2 linked regions of the Homo sapiens genome follow. The gene in region 2 interacts genetically with the main gene of each other region. Each region holds a gene or a part of one and is shown on either strand. Other genes may lie near its edges. The genes, in order: BCL2 and ITLN1.

The links.
Region 1: of ITLN1 (region 2) and BCL2, extra expression of one rescues a mutant of the other (dosage rescue), as found in Homo sapiens cells (one study listed by BioGRID).

The regions. Positions count from the first base shown.
Region 1 is NC_000018.10:63,122,816-63,128,029, forward strand, and holds the end of BCL2 (apoptosis regulator Bcl-2), read right to left. Parts: 3' UTR 531-5,214; downstream 1-530. UniProt on the Homo sapiens protein: Suppresses apoptosis in a variety of cell systems including factor-dependent lymphohematopoietic and neural cells. Regulates cell death by controlling the mitochondrial membrane permeability. Appears to function in a feedback loop system with caspases.
Region 2 is NC_000001.11:160,881,994-160,889,612, reverse strand, and holds the start of ITLN1 (intelectin-1 precursor), read left to right. Parts: upstream 1-4,432; 5' UTR 4,433-4,552; intron 4,553-4,729; 5' UTR 4,730-4,735; coding exon 4,736-4,793; intron 4,794-6,086; coding exon 6,087-6,185; intron 6,186-7,408; coding exon 7,409-7,619. UniProt on the Homo sapiens protein: Lectin that specifically recognizes microbial carbohydrate chains in a calcium-dependent manner.

The sequences.
Region 1 (5,214 bases), on a different chromosome or scaffold from region 2:
ATCAGAGTCCTTTTAATTGAGTCTAAGTGATGTGACTTGAAGGGTTGAGGATTAGGGTATCAGGACCTGAACCCAGTGGGAAACATCAGATCCCTTGCCATTTAGGGTTCACCTGCTCCAAAGCAAGTAGCTGCTTTGGTTCCATCTAAAAATGTTGACTTCAAAACAGAACTTTCAGCTTATTTCCCTCTTTTTCATACACATTTCATCTTATAAAATGCAGAGGCTGGGATCTCTGGTCTATATGGAAGAACACACTCAACAGCAACAGTAGCTCTCCCAGGGAGTAGAACTCAAGACTGGTCTATCTTGTACCTAACCAGGAGGGTTATTACCAAGAAACAAGAGTCTCCTTCTAAGGTGGTTTCACCTGTAAGGCAATCCCTTAGCCTGGTCCCTGAGGGCTTCATTAGAGTAGGGTCCTGGTGATTTTACTGGCTTGTTAAGAAGGCTTTTCAAAGTCTTGTGTAATGATGATGAATGGCAGGGCAAAATCATGTTAACACATTATAAACAATTCCAGGCACAACCAGTATCTCACACTGTACTTTATTTTTCTTCACAATATTAACTAGACAGACAAGGAAAGTTTAATGGCAATGTGACTTTTTCCAACAACACAAACAAAGTGCCATTATAGCTAATGGTGGCCAACTGGAGACTTACTTTACCTTAACCATGTAAAGTATCCTTACCGTATTTTTTATGTGTACAGTGTTGCAGAATATCAGCCACCTCTTAAAAGTATCAATCTTAAAAAGAGCCATGGAAGGTAAAAGTATGAAAATCTTGATAACAAAAGCTTTCAATACAAAAACACTTATTGTACACTTATTTTTATTTAAAACAAAAATAACCCCAGTAACTCAAAACAAAAGCAAACCTTGGTTGAAAACTTAAGAAGGTATAATAAACAAAACCACCAAAAGAAAGCTTCCCCAAAAGAAATGCAATCCACTGTCACTCTTGCAAATTCTACCTTGGAGGGAAAAACTTAATGAAATGAGCTATCTGGAGGGCCCACGGCAGATTTTCCAAAAGGTTTAGGTGCATGGATTTACTCAGTATCTACACTACAGTCTTATTTATTAATAGTCTCAGAATTTTCTTGATTGAGCGAGCCTTTCCATCCTCCACCAGTGTTCCCATCTTCTGTGCTCAGCTTGGTATGCAGAACAACCTTGTTGTTGATAGGATGTTTGCTTGAAGTTATTTTTCTGGGGCAGTCCAGATGAACCGGTACAGTACCATTCATGCTCCATCTGATTTTCTTTGCATCCAGTGAGATGCATATTTCATGATTGTCCAAGGTCATGGTTGTCCAAAGACATGGAACAGAATGATTCACTGGGTAAGACTAAAGGACTTGTATTATCACTCTCCAATTCAGTTTCACATTGCTTAATTTTATAAAATTTTTTTCTGTATTGTACATAATAAACATTTAGAAACAGATGTCCCTACCAACCAGAAGGTTGTCATTAAATATCCTGTTAGTTAAAACTGCACATTTATTGTTTAAATACCCATTAGACATATCCAGCTTGAAATTTATACCATTGCACTGCCAAACGGAGCTGCACTTTGAGCCATGCTGATGTCTCTGGAATCTAAAGGTCGTACCACAAACTTCAAAATGTTTCTCATTTGTCACACAAGGTTCTTCGCAGAGGCATCACATCGACCCCAATACAGGTCCTTCATACCCTTAGTTCTGGTTATTCTGAAAACTTCCAACTCCCTGATCCAAACTTGGGAATGTTTTACATTTAAAAATTCTTCCTCCCTCCCACCCCTCCAACAAATGTCCTTTGTCCCATAATAATTTAAAAAAAAAATCCCTGAAAGATCCAAATTGAATAACAATAAAGATCTGATTGGAACCTTCATAAGCTTGACAATGTAGAATTGTATTTCTTAAAAAGTGTGTAACCACATTTGTCTGGGCTGCAAAAGACACCACAGAATAAGATCAGAATAGAATTTCAACTGACTCCCTAATTTCCTTAGAATGGCTTGTATTTCGAGCCTTTCCTGTTTTTCTCTGATAGAGTAGGTGTACATTACTAACTATAAGTGATAAGAAAGTCTAAAAACAGCCACTGCCTTAAAAGTACAGTTGGAATTAATTAGAGTTTAAGTTCACATTTATAAACTATTTGTTTTAGGATAAGTTCAATTACAAATAGAGACTATTTGCAATTCTGTTCACTCAATAGATCCTGGAGGTGAAAGCTAGACATGTGTTGGGATTGCCCTGATTATTTACATTTAATCTTGATTATTATAACTCCTCTCGATTTATAATCACTTCCTAATTTTTCCCACTGGGCCAGAGCTACATCTTTAGATGATAAGCATTTACTAATAAAACAAAGATCACATATAAATGGAAGGCCACATCTGAACACAGAGAGGTAAGTGAGCTGTGGAGAGAATGTTGGCGTCTTGTTTGAACTAAATTGAGGTGCTTCCTTAATTCTGTGACTTTATTCCAAATCTTAAGCCTGCCAGAGTTTTCTGCCCCTGCCAAATCTTCGGAGACGACCCGATGGCCATAGACCCTGTCAGCTGTCATTCTGGCCTCTCTTGCGGAGTATTTGTGCAGCGAGGGACTGGGAGGGCCGAGGAGGTTCTCAGATGTTCTTCTCCTTTTGGGGCTTTTTTTAGAGCCCTTGTCCCCAATTTGGAAAGTGCATATACTCTATTTAACTCTGACCCTGGCCAGTGTAAAGAGGAGTACATACAGAGGACTGTTTTTTCATTCATAAAGAGCAGTTAAGATGCAGATGTGAATCCCTCTTCAATACAAAATAGGGATGGTTCTCTGTTGCCCAACTGCAAAATAATTAGATATAATGAAAAAAAAGAAGAGGAGAAAAAAATGACTAGTTGAGGCTTTTATATACATTCATTGCTTCTAACATGTTTTTAACAATAAGGAAAATGCAACATCAACTACTCTTAGAGCAAGTGCAGCCACAATACTGTACAGTTCTGGGGCCAAGAGGCTGGGCACATTTACTGTTATTAAAACCAGGTAACAAAACCCCACAGCAAAAGGCAGCCAGCCAGCAATTAGCCCCCGTGACCTCTTAATATATATACATTTTTCAAATACTCTGTGAATCCCGTTTGAACAACAACAAAAGACAAAACAGGCTTTATATTAAAAACGTCCACGTTCTTCATTGTTACTTCTAAAGCAGCTTGGAGGATCTTACCACGTGGAGCATACTGCAAACTGACTCCATTAAAATGATTTTGGCAGGATAGCAGCACAGGATTGGATATTCCATATTCATCACTTTGACAATGTAAACCTTTCATAAAATAATATTTTGCTTAAAAATTAGAATCATTCAAAGGTCTGATCATTCTGTTCCCTGAGGCCCGCCGGGGAGGTCTGGCTTCATACCACAGGTTTCCTGCTTTCTTGGTGGAGCGTAAGCACCACTGCATTTCAGGAAGACCCTGAAGGACAGCCATGAGAAAGCCCCCGCGGAAGGAGGGCAGGAGGGCTCTGGGTGGGTCTGTGTTGAAACAGGCCACGTAAAGCAACTCTCTAAAGGTCAAACCACCATAGATTTGAATCTGCTGGTCATTTGCCATCTGGATTTTTAACTGAATGAATCTCATGGGTTTAACCAAACATGCATGTAATCCTGAATACCATGAATTAAATGCGGAATTGCCCAGGGACGAGGAAACCTTCAAGAAACAAGGTCAAAGGGACAACAGATATAACTGTCACAATAAACAATTCTGTTGACGTGGAAATGCACATGACTTGGTTGAAACAAAGCTCCTCAGTGGCCAGTGACATCCAGGTTTTTCTTAGGTAGCTGAGACTCAGGGCTTATCTCACCTTCTCAGAATGCTTTTGAAGAATCAAGAGATAAAAATCTCAAACAGAAAACGATCACCTTTGCTCACAAATAGTGTATAGGCCATAACTAAATACAATTAAAAACAAAAAAACGCTGAGATGCATGTATTTTTTTAAAGCAGCTTTCGAAATATCAACCACAGCATTAAACATTGAACAGAGTACATTCCAAAGTTAATACAGATAAATGGTATATAATGCAATAATGCCACAGAGTTATTCCATCAATGTTTCAAGGCTGATTCTAAACTGGAAGAAAAAAAAATTTCCTAGTTTATTTGCTGAAGATGTCACTTCTTTTGTTACTTCTTTATAGTTCCCCACCATTGATTTTTTTTTTAATGCCCCAGGATGTACAGATAACCCCCATATTCCACACCTGGAACTTTTTTTTTGTCAGGTTTTCAAATAAAACCAAACTACAGTGACAAGATAATGTTTTACATGTAATTCCATAGACAGGGGTCAATTAATCCATGACACCTCACTTCAATGCTTCTTTTAGGATTTGTGACCCTCTCCAAAGTCATTTAAAGCCTTGCTTTAAACTCACAGGTGGGCCAAGGCCACACAGCCAACGTGCCATGTGCTACAGCCAAAATGGGCCGTGGCCATTGCCTCTCCTCACGTTCCCAGCCTTCACCATGTCCTTCTGATAGGAAGGGCCCAGGGCCTCTGTTCCTTCCCTCTACAGTGATACATGTCTTAAGAAGGGTCGTGGCTCCCATGCTCCACGTGAAAACGGGCCTACCTGGAGGGCCCCAGGGTGACAGGCCCAGCCACACCCCTCTACTGCTCTTTCTTGACAGTGGAATTCTGAGCTCCATCAGCTTCCAGACATTCGGAGACCACACTGCCCTGTTGATCATCCCTGGAGGAGGCCAGTGAGGGCCCCGGCTCAGTTCCAGGACCAGGCCTCCAAGCTGGGACACAGGCAGGTTCTGCGGACTTCGGTCTCCTAAAAGCAGGCACTTGTGGCGGCCTGATGCTCTGGGTAACTCTAGCCTTCCTGATGCGGAAGTCACCGAAATGTTCACTTCCTCAAGTTCCAGAGGATTCTGTTTCTTACTCAGACAGAGCCAGTATTGGGAGTTGGGGGGTGCGTATCCAAAATATATGAATATACACAATCAGGGCTTAAGGTACTGGATGATATTGTATAAATTGCTAAAATGCTTTTCTCGGCACAATTGGTAGCTTAAAAAAATACTTTCCTATGATTTAAGGGCATTTTTCCCATCGCTGTCCTTCGGCGTGGAAATCTCAGTGGGTACTAGGTCCATCTGAAGTTCCCAACTCTTTTCCTCCCACCAGGTATGCATCAT
Region 2 (7,619 bases):
GAGAATGAGGTGGGAGAATCACTTGAGCCCAGGAGTTAGAGACCAGCCTGGGGAACATAGTGAGACCCCATCTCTAAAAAAAATTAGAAAATTATCTGGGTGTGGTGGCATGTGCCTGTAGTCTCAGCTACTCAGGAGGCAGAGGTGGGAGTATCGCTTGAGCCCAGGAGGTCAAGGCTGCAATTAGCCATGATTGTACCACTGCACCCCAGCCTGGGTGACAGAGCAAGACCATGTCTCAAAAAAAAAAAAAAAAAAAAAATCGAATATTTGTCTTGGACCTAGATACAGTCTATTTCCTTTTGTTAATATATCTGAAAATATATAGTTCAATATTTTCTCTCCACAAATAAAGTATTAGCTTAACAAATATGGTGCCTCATAAACCTTTTCTTAAGAACTGCTGTGAGAAACATGTAAACAGTGAAAAGGTCATGTTATCGTGTTAAGATAATAATGGGCATAAGGGATGTGGCAACACCGGGCAGGAAGTGATCCATCCCATTGTTGAGGGAGAAGAGGCATGAGTGACATTTATGCTCAGGAAATTGAGGAGTGACACTGGGACAGAAATGGCAAAGCAGGTATTGAAGCATCAGAGGAAGTTTGTCCTGGATCAGTGATTCCAAAATGTAGTCTGGGGGCCAGTGCTACTCTAGAATGACCCCCCACCAAAAGAGTGTTTTCATTGGTTTGTAGCAAAATGAGAAAAGTAAGAAAAAATATTATTTTTCATAAAACTAAATTTATTCAAGCTGAAAATTTATATTTATTTTGATACTTTGTCTTTCCTGTGCTGTCATTGAGATATATATATATCTTACAAATATATATATATCTCACAAATATATATATATTTGTGAAATCAGTTGTATTTCTATATATAAGCATCAAACAATTAGAAAATAAAATTTCAAAAATATGGCATTTATAATAGCATCAAAAATGTCAAACACTGCCAGCATGGTGGCTCACGCCTGTAATCCCAACACTTTGGAAGGCCAAGGGTGTGAGGATTGCTTGAGCCCAGGAGTTTGAGACCAGCTTGGGCAACATAGTGAGATCCCATCTCTACAAAAAATAAAACAATTAGTTGGCCGTGGTGATATTTACCTGTGTTCTCAGCTACTTAGGAGGCTGAGGTGGGAGAATCACTTGCCTGGGTGACAGAGTGAGACCCTGTCTAAAAAAAGAAAAAAAAAGTCAAATACTAAGGAACAAATAGCAAATCATACACAAAATCCCTATAAGGAAGCTATAAGATACGAAAAAGCAATAAAAACACAAATAAATGAAGAAACAGGCCACACTCAATATTTTAAAGACGTAAATTATTTCTAAATGATCTATAGATTCAATGTAATTCCAATAAAATCCTAAAGGGTGTGTGCATGTGTGTGTGTGTGTGTGTGTGTGTGTGTGTGTGTGTATGTGTAGAGGTAAACGACCAAGAATAACCAAAAAAGAAGAGCAAAGTGAGAAGCCTTGCTCTACTGGATATCAAGACATTTTATCAATCTAAAATATTTGGAACAATGTGGTATGGGCACAAGGAAGTGCTGATTTCCATCACAGTCAGGCCAGTAATTACCTTTGGGAAGGGAGAGGTCTGTTATCTGGAAGCAGCATATGGGAAGCTTCTGGGTGCTGCTAAAGTTTCATTTCTTAGCTAGGATGATAATTACACAGGTATTTGCCTTTCTTGTAATTTATTAAACTGCACATTTAATGTTTTATATCTTTCTCTGTATGTGTAATTTTACAACAAACCTTCTCCAAGTCACTGGAGATGTAGATGTGGGGCTGGAGTGAGTTGGTGGTGAGGGGCTTTCTTCCACACTCTTCTATCTTCATGCACATCTATACTGTCACATACGTACCTATACTCTCAGCACTTTGGGAGGCTGAGGCAGGATTGTTTGTGCCTAGGAGTTCGAGACCAGCCTGGCCAACATGGTGAGAACTCGTTTCTACCAAAAATACAAAAGTTAGCAGGGTGTGGTGGTGTGTGCCTGTATTCCCAGGTGCTTGGGAGGCTGAGGTGGGAGGATCACCTGAGCCTGGAAGGTTGAGGCTGCAGTAAGCTGAGATTGTGTCACTGCACTCCATCCAGCCTGGGCAACAGAGTGAGACCCTGTCTCAACATAAATAAATAAATAAAATAAAATAAAGAGAAGCTGCTGTCAAGCAAGCCTGGATCTTGCCCTCTCTCTCGATTTTCTATTTCATGAGGTAATAGATTTACTTTTTAGAAAAGCCACTTTGAGATGGGGTTTCTATTAGTTACAGCTACAAGGAACCAGACTGAACTAAATAAATGTCCAGGGCAGTGGGGTTTGGAGGAAGTTGTGTGGGGAACAGATTCAAGAGGAAGTAGGGGTAGAATCAATGGGACGCAATCACTGATTGGATGATGATGGTTAGAAGGGGTAATGTCCTTAAAATGGATGTACTGTTTTCCCAGTCTATTAGATGGCATCATGTACCATTAAGGATGAGATGCATAATGATATTAAAGATGTCAAAATACAAAAAAAGTGTCTTAGAATCAACTAAAGAAAGTAGTATAAGTGTATATTTTCTTTTTTTATTTTTGCAAATATGTTACTGTTTTATTAAGCCATAAAGTTTTCAGGTGGTTAGTTACACACAGTAATGAACAACTGAGGGGATGTTTAATTTTTTTCTCTAGATCTTGGGCCCTTGGTGTTAACTTTATATACATGTATTTACTATTGTGAACTGTAAACTTAGAGACCTCTATTTTTTTTTTTTTTTTTTGAGATGGAATTTCACTCTTGTTGCCCAGGCTGGAGTGCAATGGTGCGATCTCAGCTCACTGCAACCTCTGCCTCCCGGGTTCAAGCAATTCTCCTGCCTCAGCCTCCCGAGTAGCTTGGATTACAGGCGCCTGACACCGTGCCCAGCTAATTTTATATTTTTAGTAGAGACACGGTTTCACCGTGTTGATCAGGCTGGTCTTGAACTCCTGACCTCAAGTGATTGGCCACCCTCGTCCCCTCAAAGTGCTGGGATTACAGGTGTAAGCCGCAGCGCCTGGCTGAGACCTCTATTTCTAAGAGGTTGTTGTTTGTAAATATGAAAGCTGGGTATGTTCATTTTGTTACCTATACTGATGAGTTAATTTAGTTTCTAATACATTTAATTTTATTTAATTAATTATTTTCCAGATACACAGAGCAAATAGCTTCTAATAGATTTTAAATTTACAAAAGTATAACTTTTTTTTGCAGTTTTTCTTCTTGGGTGCTATTTTATTTTCTTCTATCAATATGTGAGTATTTTTTGCAAATCAGTACTTTGAACCAACAAATAGGAAATATTAGCTTAACAAAAAAGATATTCACAATCTTTGTAAGAAAAGGTTGCAGTATTATTAATGCTATAATGACATTATGTATTAAATGTATGATATCACTGGGGAAGAACTGAGTAATTCTATTACAGCTGCAGGGTAGCATTTGAGAACTTCATGACATAGGAGCAGGAATAAGACAGGAGGTTCGAAGCAGCAGAGAGGTTTCGTATTGATTCAGTTTCAAATGAATCCTGTAGTAAATTTTCCCTCGTTTGTGGCAAAATGACAAAATTAAAGACAAAGTAGTGAGTCTTTGTGTGAAACTAAATTATTCAAACTAAAGATTTATATATTTTTTAAAACTTTTCTATTCGTATTTTTTTGTGTGTTTTGTATCTCTTTCCCCTCCATTCCTTTTTACCAATTTATTCAGAAATGATCACTTTCCCATTTTGTTAAAATTTCCTTTTTCTATTTCTATGAATTGATAATTATGGCCAATGATTAATTTCATTTATTTATTTATTTTGAGATACCTAAGCTGAAGTACAGTGGCACGGTCATATTTCACTGAATCCTCTATCTCTGGGACTTAAGTTACCCTTTTGCCTTGCCTCAGCCCCACCTGAAACTATAGGCAAGTACCACCATGCCATGCTAATTTTTTTACTTTTATTTTTAGTAGAGAAGAGGTTGCCCTATGTTGCCCAGGCTGGTCTCAAACTCCTGAGTTCAAGTGATCCTTCTGCCTTGGCCTCCCAAAGTATTGGGATTTGAGCCAATGTGCCAAGCCAACAGATGCTTAATTTAGAGAAAGTTTTTATTTTGCAAGAAAGAAAGGCACAAAAACCCAAAACCAACACCAACTCTTGTTAATCTCTTCGTCTACTTCCTACTTGACACAGGTCCATGAAACCCCCAGATCCAGGAACAACGCTAGCAGGTGATTCTTAGGATTGGTTTTTTCTTTAGAACCTGTTAATTCCACTGTATAAATAACCTCCCCGAGATAACCAGAAGCCTCCCCTGCACTGGGCATTGTGCCAGGGGAGGGTGAGGCTGGAAACCTTGGTTGGCCCCACTGGGCTTCCTCCATAAAGCTTTCTGCACCTCATTCCACATCAGGAGCGTTTTTGGAGAAAGCTGCACTCTGTTGAGCTCCAGGGCGCAGTGGAGGGAGGGAGTGAAGGAGCTCTCTGTACCCAAGGAAAGTGCAGCTGAGACTCAGACAAGGTCTGTGAGTTGGGGGAATCCTGTTTTCAGCTTAGGTCTGCTTTTGGTCTCAGAGATGTGTGAAGTTTAAACAAAAGGCAAGGGGTTTTGGAGTCTTTGTAAGACTGGACAGGGGTGGGGCAGGGATGTAGAGAAAAATGATGGCCAAGATGGTGACCTTCATCTTGCTTTCTTTAGATTACAATGAACCAACTCAGCTTCCTGCTGTTTCTCATAGCGACCACCAGAGGATGGAGTACAGGTGAGTCACGCTGCTAGGGACAGCAGTTCCTTCAGCTGGATGACTTCCGGGATCCTGGTCTCTCCCAGGACACAGAGCATGTCCTTGAGATGCACAGCGGCTGGCTTGCATGTAGACTGAGTGCCGATTTCTGGTCTCTGGCGGAATCTGGCCTGTGGCAGTGAAGGTATTGCTTGAGGCATGTCCTGGGTCCAGGCTCTGTGCTTTTGTGTGGCCCTGAGGGGGCTGTGGCAAGAACTGTGTCACCTTCCAGCCACTGCCCACTCCTGTGGCCTTGGCTGTGGGATTTCCATGGGAACTACATGGTCTGCTTTGTGCCTGGAGAATGTTCTCTCCACAGTTTTCCTCTCTACAACAAGAATAACAATGACATTTTAAAATTTATATTTTTCTTCACGTCTAAAAATTTTTTTTTTAAAGAAAAGGCTGTTTCGAAATATCTTCTTACTTCATCTTTGCAAAAGCACTGTTTATTAACTGTGTTTTAGGTATGAGGAAACTGAGGTCAGTCACCTCTGACCTCACAGCTTTCCCCTAGACTGTTCGAATAGTTTGCAGACTTTTTGGAGTAGAGATTAGTCTCACCACTCCCTACTTCACACCCCATGTTTCAGCCATATTAAGCAGCTTGTAGTTCTACAGCTGGACTACGCTGTATTTTTTTTTTTTTCTCTAGGCCTTTGGATATGCTGTTTTCCCTGCCTTGGATTGGCTTCCTACTGATAAATCATGTTTATTCTCTCAGAATAAGCTAAGATGTCACCTGGACTGGAAGGTCTTCTGTGACTAAGACATGAGACAACCCGTCTTGCCTTCTTCTCCCAGGCAACTGCCCCGCTTACTGTCTGGCGTTTCCATTCTCCACTGTTACCTCAGAGTCTTTCTTTTGTTCTCTTGAGTTTGCCTTTCTTCTACCATTTATTCTTGTCAATACAATTTTCTGTTGACTTGTTAGCAATTCCCTCTAGAGGCAAGCTCTTGCTGGGGAACTTTAATGTCTTTGATTACTCAGTGCTTAGGGCAGGACCCAGCACAAGGACAGGTCTTGTGGCGGGAGGCAGACTTTAAGCCTGTGCTGGCTGTCAGGTCGGATGGGCTGAGTGGATATGATGCCGATGGGCTGAGTGGATGTGACACTGATGGGCTGAGTGGATATGACACTGGCTGTCTCAGGCCTTACCACCCGGGCAGCGAGGTTCTGCTACAGTGGTGGAATGAGCGTGGGACTAGTGATAGGAGAGGGTAGGTTTTGTGTCAAACCGGGAATGAGAATAAACCCTGTGTATTCCCTAGATGAGGCTAATACTTACTTCAAGGAATGGACCTGTTCTTCGTCTCCATCTCTGCCCAGAAGCTGCAAGGAAATCAAAGACGAATGTCCTAGTGCATTTGGTGAGTGATGAAACATTCAAACAGAGCTCAGTCAGGGTATCAGGATTGTGTCTTCTGGGAGTCTTTTTGTCTTTTAGTTAAAAAATTATGGTAAAGTATATGTATATTATAATTTACATAAGATTTGCCATTTTAAGCAACATTAAGTGTGCAATTCAGTGGCATTAATTACCTTCAAGGTTGTGCAACCATCACAGCTATCCATATGCAGAACTTTTTCAGTGCCCCAAACAGAAACTCTGTACTTAATAACATGGAGGGGCCGGGTGCGGTGGCTCAGGCCTGTAATCCCAGCACTTTAGGAGGCTGAGAGGGGTGGATCAGTTGAGGCCAGGAGTTTGAAACCAGCTTGGCTAACATGGTGGGGCCCTGTCTCTACTAAAATACAAAAATCAATTGGGTGTGGAGTACATGTTTGTAATTCCAGCTACTTGGGAGGCTGAGGTGGGAGGATCGCTTGAACTCAGGAGGCAGAGGTTGCAGTGGGCCAAGATAGTGCCACTTCACTCCAGCCTGGGCAACAGAGTGAGACTCCATCTCAAAAACAAAAACAAAAACAAAACAAAACAAAAAATAACATGGAGTTATTAAGCAATAACTCTCTTCCCTCAGTCTCTGGTAGCTGCATTTTACTTTCTATCTCCATGAATTTGCCTAGTGTAGTTACCTCATGTAATTGGAGTCATATGGTATTTGTCCTTTGGTGTCTGGCTTATTTCACTTAGCACAGTGTTTTGAGGGTTTGTCCATGCTGTAGCATGGATATTTCATTCCCTTTTATCCACTGCAGATACATATATGCACACACACCATGTTTTGTTTATTCATTCACCTGTTGGTGAATATTTGAATTGTTTCTTCTATTTGGCTCTTGTGACTAATGCTGCAATGAACACTGGTGTAAAAGCATCAGCTTGAGGCCCTGTTTTCAATTCTTTTGGGGATAGACCTGCAGTGGAATTGCTGGGTCATACAATAATTCCATGTTTAACTTTATGAAAAATGTCACTGGGATTTTATACAATTCTATGTTCTGCCTCAGTTACAGGAGCATGATCTTCTGAACTCAGGGAGGCCCCAGTACCCCTGGGAGCACTTAGTGATGTGAGTCAGGACAGGAGCCTTTAGGCCATGTCTCTGGTTCCTAGGGCCTTTCTTGTCATGGGGCTGAAATGAACCCTCAGCTCTCAGACAGGGAGGCTCTGGGCTGGTTCTCTCTACAGATGGCCTGTATTTTCTCCGCACTGAGAATGGTGTTATCTACCAGACCTTCTGTGACATGACCTCTGGGGGTGGCGGCTGGACCCTGGTGGCCAGCGTGCACGAGAATGACATGCGTGGGAAGTGCACGGTGGGCGATCGCTGGTCCAGTCAGCAGGGCAGCAAAGCAGTCTACCCAGAGGGGGACGGCAACTGGGCCAACTACAACACCTT